Homo sapiens: one gene and its partner. The protein of the gene in region 1 purifies or fractionates together with the protein of each later gene. This does not show direct contact. Each region holds a gene or a part of one and is shown on either strand. Other genes may lie near its edges. The genes, in order: STAP1 and SULT1A1.

Region 1 (10,663 bases):
TGTTCCCATACATCTTTCTGCGCTGCAGGCATACTCCCCCGAGTCTGCTTTTAGCTTCCCTATCTTAGTGCACCTGAAGGGAAAGGAACGTGCTTATTAAGGCCCACTGTTTTACTGGGGCCCATTGTATGAGGGTGAAGTTTGGCAGTTACCCAAGAGACTTTCCCCCCACCTCCCTCTGTGCCCAAGCTGTCTTATCTGTTTTACTCTCTGCTCTTTCTGGCTGCTTGTAGTTAGAAGAGAAGTGATTTCCTTGAAATGCATGAGGCTAAAAAGGGAGCTGGAACTTAAAGTGGCAGTATTTGAGATGATGGTGCTCCTGCTCTGTCAGTCACTACCAATAAGAATTCTCCAATGAGTCTGGGTATGGTGGCTCATGTTTAATTCCAGCACTGTGGGAGGCTAGGATAGGCAAATTTCTTGAGGCCGGGAGTTGGAGACCAGCCTGGCCAATATGGTGAAACCCCATCTCTACTAAAAATACAAAAATTAGCAAGGCCATCATTGTTACAGAAGTGATATTAGTAGCTCTGTCAGAACAGTTTAATTTGCTAACCCTTATAACTGTCAGTACAAAGAGTTGCATCTGGGATGATAAGAGCTTTTCCTATTACGTATTTTCAAACTATTTTTGTAGTGGAAAATGTCACTTTTGTTACTGAGGAGTAGTTTTTGGATGCCAGGTAGATACGGGAAACTGGTTTTCATACTAGGTAACTCACAGAATAATGGTAGCTTATTCTATACTTATACAGTAGTGGTGGCACACTACTGTAATCCCAGCTACTCAGGTGGCTGAGGCATGAGACTCGCTTGAACTCGGGAGGCGGAGGTTACAGTGAGCCAAGATGGTGCCACTGCACTCCAGCCTGGAGGACACAGCTAGACTCTGTCTCAAAAAAAAAAAAAAAAAAAAAAAAAAAAAAAGAATCCTCTCAGAGCAGAAAGCCTCCTTACTGCTTCCGGCTCCAGAGCCACACCTTACCTAAAATGATATGATGATATGCACAAGCAAACTGATGTCTGTGACTTGACTATCAACACCCATGAAGCTAGTGATCAGACATTGGGACTTCTGATAACTTTGCCACAGAAAAATTAGATGCCTACAGGCCATACATGCCTTTTTATTGGTTAGAAAAGCCAAAGGTTGCCTGGTGCAGTGGCTCACATCTGTTAATTCCAGCTACTCAGAAGGCTGAGGCAGGACGATTGCTTAAGCCCAGGAGTTTGAGACCAGCCTGGGCAACATAGCCAGACCTCCTCTCAATGAAGTTTAAAAAACAAACAAACAAACAAACAAAAACAAAGGCAGCATAAGAATGAACCCCGCCTCCCTTCTGCCTTGCCAATCATGTTGAATGCTTTTCAATCTTAGCTGCAAAGAAGTCTGAAAAATGTAGATTTTATCTTTTTAGCCTCTGCAATAAACAAAAGCACACTAGAAGGGTTTGGAATGACGGTAAGCACCAATCCACCTTATTCCCTAAGGAAGGCATGAAGGATGAGAAATAAAAGAGAAAACATAGACTTAACCTTTGTATACATTGAGTTTGAAATGGTTAAAACTGAATTCATTATCCCTCTACCACCCAAACTATCTCCCCACTCTGAATTTCTAGTTTCTATTAAAGCTACCATTATTCTGTGAGTTACCTAGTGTGAAAACCAGTGTCCTGTATCTACCTGGCATCCAAAAACTATTTCTCAGTAACAAAAGTGATATTTTCCACTGTAAAAATAGTTTGAAAATACATAACTAGGAAAAGTTTTTATCATCCCAGATGCAACTCTTTGTACTGAAAATTATAAGGGTTAGCAAATTAAACTGTTCTGACAGAGCTACTAATATCACTTCTGTAACAATGATTGCCCACCTTTTTTTTCTGTTTCAAAAGACTTAAGGGAAACATTTTCTGAGTAAAAATGGCTCACTGTATCAGTAATTCTCAGGCAAAGGAGTAGGAAGCTCCCTCCATATTGTATGTCTGATAATCTCTGGAGTTGTGGTATTACAATGTGCATTTTCTCCACTGAAAATGCTGCATGTCTGGGTGTGGTGGCTAATGCCTGTAAATCCCAGCGCTTTGGGAGGCCAAGGCGGACGGATCATTTAAGGTAAGGAGTTCAAGACCAGCCTGACCAACATGGTGAAATCTCATATCTACTAAAAATACAAAAAATTAGCCAGGTGTGGTGGTGAGCACCTGTAGTCCCAGCTACTCAGGAGGCTGAGGCGGGAGAATGGCATGAGCCTGGGAGGCAGAGGTGGAAATGAGCTGAGATCATGCCACTGCACTCCAGTCTGGGCGACATAGCAAGACTCAGTCTCAGAAAAAGAAAAGAAAAGAAAAGAAAAAGAAAATGTGGCTTAACTCTATCAATAGTAATAAAAAATTTACTCATAATAAAGATTGTATTGGATTCATACCAGCCATTGATAAGCTATAAGTATTTCACACAATGGTTAAAATTAAAGTTGTATTCTTCAGGTATGAGTTGCAAAAATAAATGTATTCAATTAAAATATCTTAGAAATATACTACCGCAAATTATAATGCATATGGCAATAAATCATCAGTAAGTATTAAGCAAAACAAAGGTCAGAAATGTGGAAGTACTGGAGCAGGGTTGGTTGATTTGATTGATTCAGTACTAATAAATGGATAGAAAAGTATTTTAGAGATCCTCAATTATTGTAAAAAATGTGGATTTTTACTCAGATGACCTTATAACATAGAGGAGTCAATACAGCACTGAGATTTTGGTTTATATGAGTTAAATCTTATACTTCACCCAAAGTTGTTAAGTTATATTTGCCATAAAACCTGATTTGTAACAATCTTCTGTGACACAGATGCTACTGATGGCTGTAATGTTGGGCTCCAATAGTTTAATAGTAACATGATTGTTCTACAAGGCAACACAAGAATCATATGTCAACCAATGGTCACATATATCAGAAAAAAGGAAACTCCTGTCACAATGGAAGCTAATAATTCTCCAAACTAGAATCATATTTTTTAGCTAGAAGCTATTCAGTAAATATATGATATTGCAATCTACTTATAACCAACCCCTACTTCAACACAATCTTTCCTTTGGAAAAACTGTTTCTTGTTGATACTCAATGTATACAAATAACTACAACAGGACAAATACTATAAGAAAGAAATCGTGCAAAGTGCTTTGGGAAAGCAGAAATGAGAGTAATAACTTTTTTTTTTGTGGGGGTGAAGAAAGCTTCAGGAAATTAGGAGATGTTCAGAATTAAGGATAGATTCAGCCTGGGTCTTGAAGGACGAGTAGGACATTACCATATAAACAAAGAGAAGGAGGGGCATCTAAGCAGAGTACAGTGACTGAAAAGGTATGAGGAGACAGGGAAGATCATAGGGTATTCAGGCAACTGAGACTAAATGAAATTACCAGAGCAAAGGGTATTTTGAGGAGTTATTATTTAAAAGGGGCCCTGCTATAAAGGACCAACGTGCCATGCTTGAGCCCATTGTTGGTATTCAATAAGTATTTAGTGTTCAATAAAAAATATTTAAAAAGGAATCTCAAAAGCAATGAGAATCCTTTAAAGTCTTTTCAGTAGGGGAATATCTTGATTAGGTTGAATATTAAATGAATCAAAGAAGAAAAAGAGTGGAAACTAGGAGACTACTTAAAAGCCTTTTGCAGCTCTTCAAACAATAAGTCATGTAGTCCATCGCCTCCTTGTATAGGTGAGGAAGCTATGATACCAGAGAAGTCAAGTGGTTTGTTCAAGGTCTCAAGAGCTGGTTAGTAGCAAAATTAGTTTATGCCCTATGTCCAAACATATTTTCTACTATATTTCCTTACCTACAAATTTATTCTTCACTGCCTAAGACTTGAGGTATCTGTAAGAGGATTTCCATTGTAATGGTGCAGTGGTGCAATGACACTAGTCATTGCAGACAGGACTAACTTGTTAATATTGTTTAAGCAAGATTTTTGCATTTTGTAGTCTTTTTCAGGGAGATATAATTTGATTCTTGGTATATTAAGAATGAATTTGACGAACAAATCAGCAGACCAAAGTAACTTACTGTGTCTGATTAGCTGTTTTTAAATTGTTGCTTATATTTTAAAGGCAAAAAAAAAACTAAGTGCTTATTTAACAACAACAAAAAATCCCCTTTACATTTTTTTAGAGGTATTATTTTCTCTCACCTATGAAACTTTCTGACCATAAAGTCAGTGCGTAATCACTGATGATTCCCAGCATTCTTTCTTTATCCTTGCTTCTTTTCATTTTTCAATTCTTAATCCCTCCTTTCACTTCCCCCCTGTATTACAACAACTAACAGCTGCCAAGAAAGTGGATTAGGTCATATATTCAATCAGGAGGTTTTCCTGTTATTCAAGTCACTTTCTTAGTATACCGAAACTAAAAAATAGTTATGGTTTTTGCCTCAAAAAATTCAGTTGGACTTATATTTTATTATTTGAAGGTTGGGTAGCAAGAAGCAGGTCTAAACTTACAAAAGCAAAGCAGTCATTTTGGATCTTCAACTCCCTATTTCTGTCTTGAGCTGTTTTCATTTTGATAATACATCTGAACACTCTTCTCTAACTTACTGATAATCAGTCCGTATTGTTCTACCTCACTTTGTAGACAATTTGTCATCCCATATCTACAGCTGCAGGATCAGTGGGACCCATACTGGTGGAGAAAACCATGCAGTCTCTCCATTAGGAAAGGAGAATCAGACTGAAGACTCCTGACTTGCTTTGATTTCTAATAATAGGCTGGTCTCACTGGGCCCAGGCTGTTCTAAATCTAGAGTAGTTCTGAAATACTGAGTGTGAAATAGGCAATGGTAGAAATTCTTAGGACCCCTGTAAGACAAATCAAAATTCCTTCTAGTATTCTTTTCTCCCATCATTTCCTGCACTGTGCTACGCCAAATCCAATCTCTTAAGGACCATTTCCTACATGCAACCATTGAGTGCACTTTGGCCCCAGTATAGCTTTATAAATCTCACTAGATAACTGTGGGAAGTCCATCCATGAATCATAGTATCAATGGTCTGCAGCTCAGAAAGCACAAAAGAACAAAATAAAAGTTTGAAAACTTACAGCTTTCTCTGCCAGATATTTTTTTGCCAAATATCTTAGACTCCTTTGTGTTGCTGTAACAGAATGCCACAGACTGGTAATTTATAATGAACAGAAATGTATTTCGCTCATGGTTCTGGAGTCTGGAAGTCAAAGAACATGGCCAGCATCTGATGAGGACCTTCATGCAGCATCATTCCATGGCAGAAGATAGAAGAGCAAGAGAGGATGATAGCATGTGAGAAAGTGCCAAACTTGATTTTATAAAAAACCCACTTCCAGGCCAGGTGCAATGGCTCACACATGTAATCCCAGCACTTTGGGAGGCCACAGCAGGAGAATCGCTTGAGCCCAAGAGTTTGAGACCAACCTGGGCAACATAGGGAGATACTGTCTATACAAAAAATGAAAAAGTTAGCTAGGAGTGGTGGCGCGTGCCTTGTAGTCCCAGCTACTTAGGAGGCTGATGTGTGAGGATTGTTTGAGCCTGAGAGGTCAAGGCTGCAGTGAGCTGTGATTGCACCAGTGTATTCCAGCCTGGGCAACAGAGCAAGACCCTGCCTCTGAAAAAAGAGAAAGAAACCCACTCCCACAGCATTAATTAATTCATTCATTCATGAGGGCAGAGGCCTCATGACTTAATCACCTTCTAAAAGTCCCATTTCTAAACACTGTTGCATTGGGGATTAAGTTTCTAACACATAAGTTTTGGAGGACACATTCAAAACATAGCACTAAATATTCATTGGGAACTCATGTACTTGGAATATCTACTGGCAAAAAAAAAAAAAAAAGAAAGAAAGAAAAAAGAAAAAAATTCCATATTCCGTGTTCCCATAATTGTGGTTTATATTTAGTGAAGCATCAAATGAGCATGAGATACAACTATTTTTTTTATTTACACAAAACTTGACCCTAAAATATTTAACCAACAGAAGTAGTACTAATAAAATTATTCTATGAAGTAATTTTTAATGAAGCTGAGTTTATTCAAGTCATGTCTTCTGCAAATAAAAATGGACACCAATAAACAAAAACAAAGATAGAAAGAATAACTGTGTTCTTGATATCTCCCCTAAAGTTCACAATCTCTACACCTGTTTCTTTCATCTTCTGGTGATGTTAATCTTCTGTTTATTTTGCGCTTTAAATCTAAGCACATGTGGATTACCCAGAGATTGCCCTCTGAAAGTCAGTCTACACCTGTTCTTTCTTACCTCACAAAAAGTAATGGAAAAAAAAGTGTGTGTGTGTGTGTGTGCGTCTGTGTGTGTGTGTGTCCTGTTGGTGGTAGTGTTGGTGGTTAAAAAGCAATTTGGGACTTCCTCTTTGAACAGTTGCCTTTTCCTCTCACAGAAGGAAGATTTCATTTTGTTTGAGACGAGAAACCAAACCACACACCAAAGAGAGGGGTATGATGGCTAAGAAGCCCCCAAAACCAGCCCCTCGCAGGATCTTCCAGGAAAGGTTAAAGATTACTGCTCTACCTTTGTACTTTGAAGGTTTTTTATTAATCAAGCGGTCAGGATACCGGGTGAGTCTATAGATGATAATGTTAAACCTAAGACTTCTGTTTTAATTTAATATTTATTTCATGGTGATGTGATGTGTTAAGACCTCCTTGTTTCTGTTGAAATTAAATCATCTTCTCTTCTTTGAGCTCAGAAAAATGATTCCAATTTTTCATAATTTAAATACAATGTCTGGCTTAAACCTGTATGTATACACATATATAATATGTATAATAACAGAGGTTGTAATATTAAGGCACTAATATAAAAAAGTCAATAAGCTAAATTTCCAAAGAATTTATTTAAATATCACAAAAGATTTTGGCTTGGGAGATAAAATGTTTCTTGTATTTTCTCCACAATTTATTGCTATGCTTCAATGATGACATGTACCATTAAGATAAAATGATATCATGATTAAAATTAAACCTGCTCCTGTTCTGAGTCATTTGAAGTTTATAATGATCAAATTATTAAAAATGGCTTTTGTAAAAATTGTTAAAATGACAAAGTTCATACTGTTTAACATTATATATAGTTATGTGTTCTAAAATACTATTCAAGATAGTGACTTTTAATTTTTGGGGTACTACTGTGGGTATTAAGTACACTAAGCTACATAAATACCTTTGCTCTAAGAAAATCCATGAAGCATTCTGTATTTTTAAATGTAATAATTAAAACTTATAGTTAGTTAAAATCATTACTTTTAAAACAGTAATTATGGATGACTTGAAATTAATTAGAGAAATAAGCCCAAAATTGCCTGTTATTAAATAAAAAAATCATTAAGTTAGGTCAAATTTTATGAAATTGTATACTGACTAAAACTAGAAAAATTTTAAGGTTTTCAGAAATTCCATCAGAAATGTTTAATGATGCTAAAATATATTTTCTGAGGATTTATGAATACTTGTGGAAAAATTATATATATGAAAAATCTATAATAGCATATTCACATTTCTTACATATATAATCAGATCATTTACTATTTGAGAGTAAAGACATGGTAATTTGTATTCTGTTATGGATGTTAAACATGCATAAATAATTACCTTTCAGTTATATTAGAATTTTTTAGATTGATCCTATATGCTTTTAATGTAAATTCAATCTTGTCACCACAGGTAAGCCACATAGTCACACTTTGCCAGGAAAGGGAAGTTGAGAAAAAAAAATTCTAATTAGTAATTTAAATCAGGTTGTTCATTGAATGTTTTCCAAGGTATTTATAATAACTGTTTATGATAGCAGTTTTTTTTAAATGCTTAAAGAAGACATGTCATTGGTATGGTTAGCAGAAAGAATAAGAATTTTAGAGTGTCCTTTATCTGATGGTTTTGCCACTTATAGCTTGTGATCTTGTGCAAGTTACTCAATCTCCTTGAGACTGTTTCAACTATAAGATAGAGAGTATACTACTTGCTACTTGCCTCCTAAGGTACATTCTAGGATTCAGTAGGTGTTCAATCAATTTATTCACTCAACATTTATTGTGTGCCTCCTATGCACCAAGCATCACTCATTTCTGGAGAATATGGAAAAAAACACAAAGATTTTATTTTCAAGAGGCTTAATATAGTAGGAATGATGTCTTCCTTACCAAATTTCTACTCTTTACCTTCTCTTAGAAAGCATTCTTTGAAGCAGAATGAATACCTATAGGCATAAATATTTCCAATGAAATTAACTTGTGTTTCTATTTGAATTTATAGTAAAGTATCTTTGTGTGTGTGGGTGTGTGTCTGTGTGTGTGTGTGTGTGTGTGACAGTGTCTCCTCTGTTGCCCAAGCTGGAGTGCAATGGTGCAATCACTAGTCATGCAGCCTTGACATCCCCGGCTCCGGTGATTCTCCTGCCTCAGCCTCCTGAGTAGCTGGGACTACAAGCGCATACCACACCCGGCTAACGTTTGTATTGTTTATAGAGACAGGGTTTCATCACGTTGTTCAGGTTGGTCTCAAACTCCTGGGCTCAAGCAACCTGCCCACCTTGGCCTCCCAATGTGCTAGAATTACAGGCATGGGCCTCTGAGTTAGACCACTAAGTACCTTTTACTTGTATGTCAGGGAGAAGAGAGCAAGAGGATGACAATAATACCTACTTATGTGGTGGTTTCAGGGATTAAAGGGATAGCATATGTAAAACACCTGGCTCACACTAAAGGTTAGATTCATTCTCTTACCCTTTCATCACTTATCATACTCTTATTCAGGTACTAAAATTAGTTTGAGGTCTGCAAGTAATATGACTCCAAGGAGAGTGAGCATGGTGATAATTAGAGTACTTGAAAATAGAAGCTATGAGAAAAATCTAAGCAAAATAAGTGGAATTTCCAAGCAATTGGCAGCAAAGTGCCAGGGAATCTTTGAACAGAAGGTGAGCCAAAGGTATATAGCCAAGTAATCTTTGGAGCTGATTGGCTAGAGGAAGGTGAGAGGCTCTGCAGAATGTAAAGTTGGGTCTCTGCCAAAGTCATTCAGAACATTTAAACTAGAAAAAATATAACTGAAGAGTAACCTGGTCTATAAAGGCATGAAATGCTGAGAGGTGCTTCTTAGCTATTTTTTGTGGGGCACTTTTAAGTATTTAAAGAGCTTTTCCCCAGGAAAATGTAACAACGTATACCATTTTGCATGCAATTCTAGAAGGTTTCTAAATCTGAGGTCAAGAACCCATGAAAAACACATAATCTTTATGGAAAAGATAATGTGGGAAGATTTATTTAAGCCACAGCACTAGGATTCTGAATTAACCAGGAAGATGTGTTTATTATCAAAGCTGTTAAATGCCACAGTGGAATACCATTGGCATCGCAGTTCTTACAAATGGGAAAATTTCTCATTTTTTCTGGGACCGTTTGAAAATAAGAGAGAGTGTGGGTGGGCCGGGAGCGGTGGCTCATGCATGTAATCCCAGCACTCTGGGAGGCCCAGGTGGGCGGATCACGAGGTCAGGAAATGGAGACCAACCTGTTCAACATGGCGAAACCCCGTCTCTACTAAAAATACAAAAATTAGCAGGGCATGGTGGCACGCACCTGTGGTCCCAGCTACTCGGGAGGCTGAGGCAGGAGAATCACTTGAACCTGGGAGTCAGAGGTTGCAGTGATCCGAGATCGCGCCACTGCACTCCAGCCTGGCAATAGAGCGAGACTCTGTCAAAAAAAAAAAAAAAAAAAAAAAGAAAGAAAGAGAGAAAGAAAGAAAAGAAAAAGAAAGAAAATAAGAGATAGTTTGGGCAACGTCTCATAATTTCTTCAATCTGTGATGTGCTAAAGTAAAAAAAAAAAACAGTGTGTGTGGGCCGGGCCCGGTCCCAGCTATTCGGAAGGCTGAGGCAGGAGAATCGCTTGAATCTGGGAGGCGGAGGTTGCAGTGAGTCAAGATCGTGCCACTGCACTCCAGCCTGGGTGACAGAGCGAAACTCCGTCTCAAAAAAAAAGGAAATTTTTTAGGGCTGTCTAAGTTGTGCTCACACACAGTTCTCTATGGCAGTAATCTCCAAATTTTAAAATAACACACTCCTTTCAGGAAAACATTTTGAGCACAGATCCCTAATATAAGAATATTAATTCAGCCGGGCGTGGTGGCTCACGCCTGTAATCCCAGCACTTTGGGAGGCCGAGGCGGGCGGATCACGAGGTCAGAAGATTGAGACCATCCTGGCTAACAAGGTGAAACCCTGTCTCTACTAAAAAAAAAAAAAAAAAAAAATTAGCCGGGCGAGGTGGTGGGCGCCTGTAGTCCCAACTACTCAGGAGGCTGAAGCAGGAGAATGGCGTGAACCCAGGAGGCGGAGCTTGCAGGGAGCGGAGATTGCGCCATTGCACTCCAACCTGGGCAACAGAGGGAGACTCCATCTCAAAAACAACAAAAAAAGAATATTAATTCATTTGGAAATTATAAATATATATATTCCCGTACTATTAATCCATGTAAATTATTTGATATATAAAAAATGAATTAAGAAATATGAAATAAAATATAATTAAATATTCTAAAATTTTCTCTCCCAATGGATCATCTTGCACACCTTTGGAATTTATGCATCCCATTTTGGA
Region 2 (11,550 bases), on another chromosome or scaffold:
GACAAGTCATTAACTAGAGTTCGATGAGAAATGCTCTCAGAGCCCATGGGTACTCAGCACAGCGAGGAGGTGTGGGAGTGGGGATCAAGGAAGTCTTGCTGGGGCCAGGCACCAGTGGCTCATGCCTGTAATGCTAGCACTTTGGGAGGCCAAGGTGGGTAGATTGCTTGAGCTCAGGAATTTGAGACCAGCCTGGGCAATATGACGATGAAACCTCATCTCCACAAATACAAAAATGAGCTGGTCATGGTGGCTCACACCTGTAGTCCCAGCTACTCAGGAGGCTGAGGTGGGAGGATCTCCTGAGCCCAGGAGGTCAAGACTGCAGTAAGCTATGATTGTACCACTGCACTCCAGCCTGGGTAACACAGCGAGACCCTGTCTCAAAATAAAAAATAAAAAATAAAAAAAAAGATCTGGAGTTAGGCACATACTGGGGGACAGGTCATTCCAGGGGCAGAAGAGCTGAGTAGAGTTGACAATGTGTAAAGCACCACGGTATGCCCAGAGGGGAGAAACCACAGGCAGTTTGGTGTTCACAGAGTATTTGTTGAGCAACTTGGAATGAGTTTGGATCCTGGAGACTGTTGAACACCCGGAGCTGAGGATCTTGCACTTCACGGTTAGGTAATTGCAGCAGAGGAAACCAGAGTGGGGGGTTATTGTAGCCAAGTTCACATAAGAAATAATGAAGTACGTCGGGTGTGGTGGCTCATGCCTGTAATCCTAACACTTTGGGAGGGTGAGGCGAGAGGATCCCTTGAGGTTAGGAGTTCGAGACCAGCTTGGGCAACATAGCAAGACCCTGTCTGTATTTAAAAAAATAAAACTGGCCTGGCATGGTGGCTCACACCTGTAATCTCACCACTTTGAGAGGCCGAGGTGAGCAGATCACTTGAGGTCAGGAGTTCGAGACCAGCCAGACCAAAATGGTGAAACCCAGTCTCTACTAAAAATACAAAAAATTAGCCAGGCATGGTGGCGCACGCCTGTAATCCCAGCTACTCAAGAGGCTGAGTCAGGAGAATTGTGGGCGGCAAGCCACCCAGGCACCGAGGCAAGAGACAGAGGACACGATCTGTTCCAGTATAATAAAATATAAAACAAGAATAGTTATACCAGATATAGATCTTAGATATGATTATATATGAATATCATTAATCATTAGTTTGTAGCAATTACTTTTTCTTCCAATATTATAATAACCCTCGCTCAATAATCATAGCCTAGGAAAAACCAGGCCATACACAGATAGGAGCTGAAGGGACATAGTGAGGTGTGACCGGAAGACAGGAGTGCGAGCCTTCTGTTATGCCTGGACAGGGCCACCAGAGGGCTCCTTGGTCTAGCGGTGACACCAGCATCTGGGAAGATGCCCGTTACCAGGCGGATCGTGGTCCAGCGTCTCCCTGTGATGCTGTGCTTCAGTGGTCACACTCCTAGTCCACCTTCATGTTTCATCCTGTACACCTGACTCTGCCTTCTAGATAGCAGTGGTAAATTAGTGAAAATACTAATAGTCCCTGATATGCAGAAATAATGGCATAAGCTGTCTTTCTCTTTGTCTCCTCTCCCTCTCTGCCTCGGCTGCCAGGCAGGGAAGGGCCCCCTGTCCAGTGGACACGTGACCCACGTGACCTTACCTATCATTGGAGGTGACTCACATTCTTTACCCTGACCCTTCAGCCTTGTATCCAATAAATAACAGCGCAGCCCGACGTTCGGGGCCACTACCAGTCTCTGCATATTGGTGGTAGTGGTCACCCGGGCCCAACTGCCTGTGTTGCCCAGGCTTCCTGTGTTGGCCGTGCTGTCACCAAGGTCACAGCATCCTGAGAACATGGTTTTCTCCTTGACTAACAAGGCCTCGGGGTCTGTCTCGGGGTTGGCCTTCCACCGGGTCAGCGGGATGATCCGGCGCAAGCTCACGGTGTGTCTCCTGGTGGTAGAGGGGCTTGTGTCAACCTGTGGCCGGGTGGGGATGCTCCTTCCCAGCTGGTAGGCTGCCCCCAGGCTCCATGCCCTGCCCTGGCCTGGACACTCACGCTTTGCCTTCTTCATCAATGTCATCTACCTCATACCTGTGGACAAAAGGAGGAAAATGCAGGATGCAGCCAGGGGCACAGTCCCTGTAGGGGAGTGTGGAGGACAGGGGCAGGGCAAGGACCCGGTGCTCCCTGCACAGCCGGCCCCGCCCACAGCACGCTCTGTGGAGTTTTTCTCCTGCTGTGCAGATGAGAAGCAGAGTGGCAGCCCAGGCAGGTGCAGTGACCAGAGAGCAGCCCTGGGGCTGTTGGAGGAGCCCCTGGGAGCCTCCATCTCCCGAGTGAGCCCAGCAGGACTGTGACCCGTTCGGCCAGGTGTCCTACAGGGGCTGCTGGGCTCAGCTACAGATGGGCGAGACCGCAGCATAGTGGGCGCCCAGCGGGAAGAACCAGGGAGGGACAAAGTGAGTTTGCAGGTGGTGGAGAGGCTCTCTTCTTGATGTCGGTGCTGAACCAGAAGTGTGTTTAAGGAGAATTTCCTAAAATTCAAAGAGTTCCACGGGAGTCGCGGCTAGGCCGGGGCGCTTCTTCAGCATCTACCTGCTCTACGGCCTGAACCCCCGTCATCAGGGCCACGTTTATATGGGGTTCACTGTCAGCCCTGCTTGTCAGGTCCAGCAGCACAATGGGGGCCACACAAAAGGCAGGGCCCAGGCCTGGCGCGGTGGCTCAAGCCTGTAAACCCAACACATTGGGAGGCCAAAGCGGTTGGATCACTTGAGGTCAGGAGTTCGAGACCAGCCTGACCAACATGGTGAAACCCCGTCTGTAATAGAAATACAAAAATTAGTCGGGCATGGTGGCACGTGCCTGTAATTACAGCTACTCAAAAGGCTGAGGCGGGAGAATTGCTTGAAAGATGGGGCAGGGGGCAGCGGCAGAGGTTGCAGTGAGCCAAATCGGGCCATTGCACTCCTGGTGAGACCGGAAGGGTCTCTGTGCCAGGAGGAAGGCTTCCTGGAGGAGGCGGACCCCGCTGGGCACAAGCCTGATGAGAGGGAAGGGCATGCCTGTGACATGGGTGGGGAGTCCAGGGTGGGGACGGGACTGTCACAGAGGAGGAGCATGACGGGGAGACAGTGCCCTGGGAATCTTGGCGGTGGAACTCCGGGGAGGAGCTGGCTGGGGCGGAGGTGATGATCCAGGATGCGGGCCAGCGTAGGGGTCTTGGTGGGCATGCTGGGGTCGGATGGAGCGCAGGAGAGAGAAGAGGGGGGACAGGTGGGTACCTGGGCTGGAGGCGCGGCCTGAGGTGGGCAGGTGCAGGGGGCGTGACTTCATTTAGGGGCAGGGCCTGGGGCTAGGCTGAAGCCGGCAGTGAGGACCCCGCTCTCGGGTGGAATTGGAGGGGACCCGCGGTTGGGCGCGGCAGGGCTCACAGGGACACCCCCGTTCTCCTCCCCAGGGAGAAAGTGCTCGTCGTGCACGGCTTCCCGCCCGCCGTGGCAACCCTTCGGGTAAGGAAGGAGACCAGGCGGCGGCAGGCGGGCAAGGGCTTGGGGTCCGCCCCCCTGCCTGGAGCCGCCCTAACTCCTCCGTATCCTGCCGCTGTTGGAGTGGGCCTGGAACCCCCTCCATAGGCGCGCCTCCTACTCCCGCTGCACCCCGACCTCCGCCGGGACCTCTATGCGCCGCGCCGCACGGGCGATGGCCTTCGGGCCTCCCCGGCCCCAGGGCACCGCGCAGGTCCCTTTGCTGGCACCAAGCCCGAGCCTGAGCCGGACCCGGGGCCCAAGAGGCCTGTGCGCCCTGCGAGCCCTTGAGCTCCAGGGGAGGTCCGCCCCAGGCAGGGCGGCTCATCCCCCAGACCACTTCGGATCCAGCTGTTTGTTGAGGAGCCAGGAAACGCCCTGACACTTTTGCGGCCCTGTCCCCGTCTCTAAGATGGGGATGATAGTATTTCTGGCCATTCCTGAGCACAGCAGGACCTGCCTTTTCCCTTTGACTGGAAGGTTCTTCTCTACACCTATCTTGATAACCTGCCACCTCCACAGGGAGGTCTTCTCTATCTCCCGATTTAAAATTGCAGCTCTGAGAAGCCGGGCATGGTGGCATATGCCTGTAGTCCCAGCTACGGGGGGAGGCTGAGGTGGGAGGATCGCTTGGTCCCAGGAGTTGGAGGCTGCAGTGAGCTCTGATCGCTCCACTGCACTATAGCCTGGGCAAAAGAGCAAGAAACTGTCTCTAAAAATATAAAATAAAATTGCACCTCTTGTGTACTTCCCCGTCTGCTTCTTTACCTGAATACTTACTATCTCACCGGCTAGGTGCTTTATGACTCTCGTTAGTCTCTCCCACCCCAACCTTTGCACTACATTGCCCGAGGGCAGCTCTTGTCACTGCTGTAGAACAAAGTCCTGCACAGAGACGATAGCCAAGAAATAGTTAATAAAATAATGGAAAACGGGTGCCTTCTACTGAGCACCCGCTAATAGTGAGTGAGTAGAGGACTTGCCCTGGGGACATTCAGTGACCTGCTGGGTGTTGCTGAGCTGTGAGGAAGTTCAGGTCTGGCTGCAGTGGTGAGGCTGTGACTCAATCAATCACTGCTGATGCTCCCAGGACCTGCACCAGCTTAGTCCCAGGGGCAAGGATTTTAAACCCCCACCTCCATTTCCTCATCTGTAAGATGCAAATAACAGTCACCTCTGCCTCACGGGATGGAGCTGTGTAATGCCCGGAACAGTGCCTGCTGCATAGAGGGGTTGCTGCCAGCTGCCTCTCCCTCCTTGTCTCTTACCTGCCTGCTGCCTGGGACAGGATGAAGCGGGGCCCTTGTGTTGCCCCAACCCTGGCTGTTGGCTAAGAGCCCACGTGATCTGCCTGTGAGAGGAGTTCCTTCCGGAAGAACCAGGGCAGCTTCTGCCCCTAGAGGGCCAATGCCCTAGCTGAGTGCAGTCCCCCGGCCCCAGCCTGGTCCAGCTTTGGGAAGAGGGTGCCCAGTTGTGCAATCCAGGCCGGGGCAGCCGTGTCCTGATCTTGGTATTCAGGGCTGAGCCTGGAGGGGGCTTGTGATGCCTGACTCTGTCTCTCTCTCTGGCCCCATGCCTTGGTAGCTGTGAGGCGTCACTGCTTTGGGTGACCTGATCTGGCTGTGATGGATGAGCACGGGGGAAATAGTGGAAGACTCGGAATTAGAAGACGTGAGTGGGCTTTGGCCCCAGCCTCCCTACCCCACTCCCTGTCCTGGGCTGCCTGTGACCAACCTTGTTTCTGCAGGCACACTGGATAGCCCTGCTGGAGCTCAGTGTCCCTAATCCCCTCCAGATACTGGTGGCCTAGGGGAGGTCATCAAAGACCGGTGGGACATCGACCTCAGCCCGTTTCCACGCTTTTTTTTGTTTTGTTTTGTTTTTTTGAGACCGAGTTTCACTCTTGTTGCCCAGGCTGGAGTGCAATGGCGTGATCTTGGCTCACCGCAACCTCCGCCTCCCGGGTTCAAGCGATTCTCCTGCCTCAGCCTCCCAAGTAGCTGGGATTACAGGCGTGTGCCACCAGGCTTGACTAATTTTCTATTTTTAGTAGAGACAAGGTTTCTCCATGTTGGTCAGGCTGGTCTCAAACTCCCGACTTCAGGTGGTCTGCCTGCCTCGGCCTCCCAAAGTGCTGGGATTACAGGAGTGAGCCACCGTGCCAGGCCTTCTCCAGGCTCTTGGCACCTTAGCCAGAAACAATTTAAGGACAAGTGCAAAAGTCATGAATGTAGGCAGATTTCCTGCAGAGTAAAGGGACTCACTGAAGAAGAGGAACGTGGGGGTCCTCAAGAGAGTGTCTCATGCCCTACAAGGTGTGGGGCTGACCTTTATGGGCTTCTTCAACTAAAGAGGGGTATATTCATGAAGAGTCCAGGAAAAGGTAAAGATTTCTCAAGACCGTGGTGCCACAATTTACACCCAAATACAGGTGTTCCTGGAGCCGTCTTGGCACTGGTGGGTGTACGGTTTCATATGTTACTGATCATACAATGAGATCCTAGGTGAAACCTACATCAAATACAGCGCCATGTTGTGTCTGGTTGGTCGTAGCCAGCTTGGTCCTCATCCTATTTTTCAGGGACTTATTGGCCCTTAGCGCATGCAGCTATTTCAAGTTTCCTTCTTCTCCTCATGTGAAACTGCTGCCTGGGATTTTGTATTCACTTGCTACCACTCTATTAATCTCACATTCTCGCCTCTTTTCTGTGTCACCCCGTGTGGGTCCGACAGGTTGTTACTAGAGTGCAATACAAAGTCTTAGTCAAGGGAACCTCCTGAGGGTTGCTGAGGGCAGGGGTGGAGCTAGTAGCCTGAGGACCTGCCAGTCACGGGGATTCCTCATGGGCACAGAGGAGGGAGGAGGGGTCCATGGCCCTAGCATATGAGAAGCCTCTCCTCTGCCTGGAATTCCCATGCCTCAGCTTCCCCCACACTCCCACCTGTCCGCTTGCCTCTGAACTCACGCATTTCTTGGAAGTCTTGGGAGATTCACCTTTACTCAGATGGTTGTTTACCTGTCTCGTGCACAGCTTGACCTTGGACTTTAAAGTGAGGATAAAGAACGAGGAGGATGGGGGGATGCCCCCCTTCCACGGGGCCCTGTGGCTTCCAAACCTCGGCCTCCTCTGGTCTCTTGTCTGTGGAGCCTCCTTCAAACCCAGGGAAATAAAACCACCTGCCACGGGTTGTGGTTCTTCTAGGATCTTCTATCAATGTTCTCTGAGGTCCCCAGGAGCCATGAAGCTGGGGCTGACTCCCAGGGCAATGGGACTGCAGTGTCCTTGTTCTTTCTTGTTCTATGCATCCATGCTCTGCTCCACCCCTGCCCCTTCACTCTGCCCACACACATCCCTCTAGACTGGCCTTGTGGTCAGAGCCTGGAGTGCATGGGCTGCTGGGGGCCTGTGGGCTGCACTGGGCCAGAACCCCTGGCACCTTCAAGACTGGCCTGGAGCCAGCAGGTAGGTGACCTTTCCAGGGCCTGCCTATCCCAGCTTTCTCCTCCAATCCCTCCCCTCTCTTGCCTGGGTCAATTAGAGAGAGCTTGTCTGTTGGCTGCCTGGCAGGGTGGAGTTCAGGGGCAGGTCAGGAGCCCAGTGACAGCTCGGAAAAAAAAAAAAAAAAAAAAAAAAAACAGAAAAAAAAAACCTACAAAAACAAACCCACCATTGGGCCTTTCCCCTTTCATTCTTCTGTTTTCTACACAGCAAACTCAGTCGTGGCTTTGGAGATCACTTTAAGCTTGTCTCCAGCTGGCACACTAAGGAGGGTAATGGAGAAGCTCCCCCACCCCCAACCCCACCCCTTCCTTCCGGAAGCAAATCTAAGTCCAGCCCCGGCTCCAGATCCCTCCCACAGTGGACCTAGGAAACCCTCAGCTCAGAGAACAACCCTGCATTCCCCACACAACACCCACAATCAGCCACTGCGGGCGAGGAGGGCACGAGGCCAGGTTCCCAAGAGCTCAGGTGAGTGACACAGTGGAACGGCCCAGGGCGCCCTCACCCTGCTCAGCTTGTGGCTCTAACATTCCAGAAGCTGAGGCCTCTGGCATCCCTGCCCTTTCCCCATGGATATCCCATTTCAGACAACCCTGGCCTGCGTGAATCCCCCTCCCTTCCCTTGTTTGTTTGTTTTTTTCCCCGGGGAGGCCAGGTCTTGCTGTCACCCAGGCTGGAGTGCTGTGGGATCCTGGCCACTGCAGCCTTGAATTCCTGGGCTCAAGTGATTCTCTTGCCTCAGCCTCTGGAGTAGCTAGGACTACAGGCCCTCATCATCCTGCCTGGTTAATGTTTAAGAATTTTTTTAAAGATTTTTAGAGATGGGGTCTTGCAATGCTGCACCAGGTTGGTCTCCAACTCCTGGCCTCAGCCTCCCTAGGGTCTGGGATTATAGGTGGGAGCCACCCTGCCTAGGCCTGTGCTTTTGCTGAGTCATCAGAGTTTTGTTCATTCCCACAGCAGCTCTGGCCCCTAGTAGCAGCTCAGTTCCTCAATGGGCCGTGTTTGTCCTGGAGCCCAGATGGACTGTGGCCAGGCAAGTGGATCACAGGCCTGGCTGGCCTGGGCGGTTTCCACATGTGAGGGGCTGAGGGGCTCAAGGAGGGGAGCATCTCCACTGGGTGGAGGCTGGGGGTCCCAGCAGGAAGTGGTGAGACAAAGGGCGCTGGCTGGCAGGGAGACAGCACAGGAAGGTCCTAGAGCTTCCTCAGTGCAGCTGGACTCTCCTGGAGACCTTCACACACCCTGACATCTGGGCCTTGCCCGACGAGGGTGCTTTCACTGGTCTGCACCATGGCCCAGGCCCTGGGATTTTGAACAGCTCCGCAGGTGAATGAAAGGTGAGGCCAGGCTGGGGAACCACCGCATTAGAGCCCGACCTGGTTTTCAGCCCCAGCCCCGCCACTGAGTGGCTTTGTGAGTGCGGGCAAGTCACTCAGCCTCCCTAGGCCTCAGTGACTTCCCTGAAAGCAAGAATTCCACTTTCTTGCTGTTGTGATGGTGGTAAGGGAACGGGCCTGGCTCTGGCCCCTGACGCAGGAACATGGAGCTGATCCAGGACACCTCCCGCCCGCCACTGGAGTACGTGAAGGGGGTCCCGCTCATCAAGTACTTTGCAGAGGCACTGGGGCCCCTGCAGAGCTTCCAGGCCCGGCCTGATGACCTGCTCATCAGCACCTACCCCAAGTCCGGTAAGTGAGGAGGGCCACCCACCCTCTCCCAGGTGGCAGTCCCCACCTTGGCCAGCGAGGTCGTGCCCTCAGCCTGCTCACCTCCCATCTCCCTCCCTCTCCAGGCACTACCTGGGTAAGCCAGATTCTGGACATGATCTACCAGGGTGGTGACCTGGAGAAGTGTCACCGAGCTCCCATCTTCATGCGGGTGCCCTTCCTTGAGTTCAAAGCCCCAGGGATTCCCTCAGGTGTGTGAGTGTGTCCTGGGTGCAAGGGGAGTGGAGGAAGACAGGGCTGGGGCTTCAGCTCACCAGACCTTCCCTGACCCACTGCTCAGGGATGGAGACTCTGAAAGACACACCGGCCCCACGACTCCTGAAGACACACCTGCCCCTGGCTCTGCTCCCCCAGACTCTGTTGGATCAGAAGGTCAAGGTGAGGCAGGGCACAGTGTTTCACATCCATAATCCCAGCACTTTGGGAGGCTGAGGCAGGCAGATCACCTGAGGTTGGGAGTTTGAGAGCACCCTGAGCAACATAGAAGAACCTTGTCTCTACTAAAAATACAAAATTAGCCGGGTGTGGTGGCGGGTGCCTGTAATCCCAGCTACTCCGAAGCCTGAGACAGGAGAATCACTTGAACCCGGGAGAAGGAGGTTGTGGTGAGCCAGAGATCCCACCATTGCATTCCAGCCTGAGCAACAAGAGCAAAACTCACAAAAATAAATAAATAAATAAATATATAAATAAAAATAAAACTGTGGCACCTGTGGTGGCTCACTGCTGTAATGCCAGCACTTTGGGAGGCCAAATTGGGTGGATCACTTGAGCTCAGGAGTTACAGACCAGCCCGGGAAACATGGGGAGTCTCCATCTCTATAAAAATGCAAAATATCAGCAGGGCATGGTGGCATAGCGCTGTAGTTCCAGCTACTGGAAAGTCTGAGGTTGGAGGATTGCTTGAGCCTGGAAGGTCAAGGTTGCAGTGAGTTATTATCACTCCAGTGCACTCCAACTTGGGCGACAGAAAAAAAGAAAGACCACGGTCCTTTTTTTTTTTTTTTTTTTTTTGAGACTCTCTGTCTCAAAAATAAATAAATAAAATAAAATAAAATAAAATAAATCCCACAATAAAAAGAAAAAGCAAAGGTCCAGGTGTGGGGCATGTGAATCCAGGGAAGGAGGCCCTGGCTCAGCCCAGCTTTGGTCCTGTTCTTCTGGGAAAGTCGCCTCACTTCCTCCAGCCTTGTCTCATCTTCTGCGGCGGGGACTGTCTGCCTCTTGCTCTGATGACCAAGAACGTAAGACTCTTCAGTGTAGACCTAAGAAAGCTAGAGGGTGGGTCCTCACAGGCCCACAAAATTTGGTGGCGGTGGGATCACGGCTGGTGGAGCATGCCTTGCTCCAGATTGGGGTGTGACGCATTGATGCAGATTATATTACTATAGAATATGATGGTCTCAGGGACCAGGCAGGACTTTGGCTTCTGAGCAGGGTTCAGCTCCTGACTTGGCCCTACCGGTGCCGTGAGATCTCAAACAAGTCAGCCTCTAAGCCTCAGGTTCCTCCTTTGCCAATCCAAGAGATGAGCTGGCCTGGGACAGGCTGTGTGGTGATGGTGCTGGGGTTGAGTCTTCTGCCCCTGCAGGTGGTCTATGTTGCCCGCAACGCAAAGGATGTGGCAGTTTCCTACTACCACTTCTACCACATGGCCAAGGTGCACCCTGAGCCTGGGACCTGGGACAGCTTCCTGGAGAAGTTCATGGTCGGAGAAGGTGGGTTTGATGGGAGGAAGGAAAGTGTGGAGCTAAGGGGTGGTGGCTACAACGCACAGCAACCCTGTGTTGGCACCCCTTGCCTGCTTCTCCAGTGTCCTACGGATCCTGGTACCAGCACGTGCAGGAGTGGTGGGAGCTGAGCCGCACCCACCCTGTTCTCTACCTCTTCTATGAAGACATGAAGGAGGTGAGACCACGTGCGATGCTTCCCTCCATGTGACTCCTGGGGGCAGGCACCTCACAGGGACCCGCCAAGGCCACCCAGCCCCCTCCCTGGGCAGCCCCCACAGCAGGACCAGATTCCCCATCCTGCCTTCTTGGCCCAGGCCTCCCCACTAAGGCCCCACCTGGCAGCGGGCCCCACACAGCTCTCATCTCTCGCACCTGAGTCAGCTGCATGGGGGGCCACGGATCAGAAACTTAGTCCTATTGCTACTCCCTGCCAAAGGGTGTGCTACCCAGGGCCACAGTCACAGAAGAAGACCATCACGGTCCTCACCCATAGGAGCCAAGCCCAGCTCATGATGGGATCACAGGGCAGACAGCAATTCTTTTTACCCCCGGGACTGGGGCCCTGGGGGTTGAGGAGTTGGCTCTGCAGGGTTTCTAGGAGAAGTGGCCAGATCGCCTCTGAGGTTAGAGAAGGGGACCCCTTTTACTTTTCCTGAATCAGTAATCCGAGCCTCCACTGAGGGGCCCTCTGCTGCTCAGAACCCGAAAAGGGAGATTCAAAAGATCCTGGAGTTTGTGGGGCGCTCCCTGCCAGAGGAGACCGTGGACTTCGTGGTTCAGCACACGTCGTTCAAGGAGATGAAGAAGAACCCTATGACCAACTACACCACCGTCCCCCAGGAGTTCATGGACCACAGCATCTCCCCCTTCATGAGGAAAGGTGGGTGCTGGCCAGCACGGGGGTTTGGGGCGGGTGGGAGCAGCAGCTGCAGCCTCCCCATAGGCACTTGGGGCCTCCCCTGGGATGAGACTCCAGCTTTGCTCCCTGCCTTCCTCCCCCAGGCATGGCTGGGGACTGGAAGACCACCTTCACCGTGGCGCAGAATGAGCGCTTCGATGCGGACTAT

The links.
Region 2: the proteins of STAP1 (region 1) and SULT1A1 purify together in Homo sapiens (affinity purification with mass spectrometry; 3 studies listed by BioGRID and IntAct, with this or other methods). This does not show direct contact.

The regions. Positions count from the first base shown.
Region 1 is NC_000004.12:67,552,307-67,562,969, forward strand, and holds the start of STAP1 (signal-transducing adaptor protein 1), read left to right. Parts: upstream 1-6,420; 5' UTR 6,421-6,503; coding exon 6,504-6,623; intron 6,624-10,663. UniProt on the Homo sapiens protein: In BCR signaling, appears to function as a docking protein acting downstream of TEC and participates in a positive feedback loop by increasing the activity of TEC.
Region 2 is NC_000016.10:28,605,869-28,617,418, reverse strand, and holds the start of SULT1A1 (sulfotransferase 1A1), read left to right. Parts: upstream 1-7,374; 5' UTR 7,375-7,488; exon of another isoform or gene 7,489-8,559; 5' UTR 8,560-8,563; coding exon 8,564-8,711; intron 8,712-8,815; coding exon 8,816-8,941; intron 8,942-9,030; coding exon 9,031-9,128; intron 9,129-10,341; coding exon 10,342-10,468; intron 10,469-10,563; coding exon 10,564-10,658; intron 10,659-11,144; coding exon of another isoform or gene 11,145-11,147; exon of another isoform or gene 11,148-11,164; coding exon of another isoform or gene 11,165-11,182; coding exon 11,183-11,363; intron 11,364-11,485; coding exon 11,486-11,550. UniProt on the Homo sapiens protein: Sulfotransferase that utilizes 3'-phospho-5'-adenylyl sulfate (PAPS) as sulfonate donor to catalyze the sulfate conjugation of a wide variety of acceptor molecules bearing a hydroxyl or an amine group.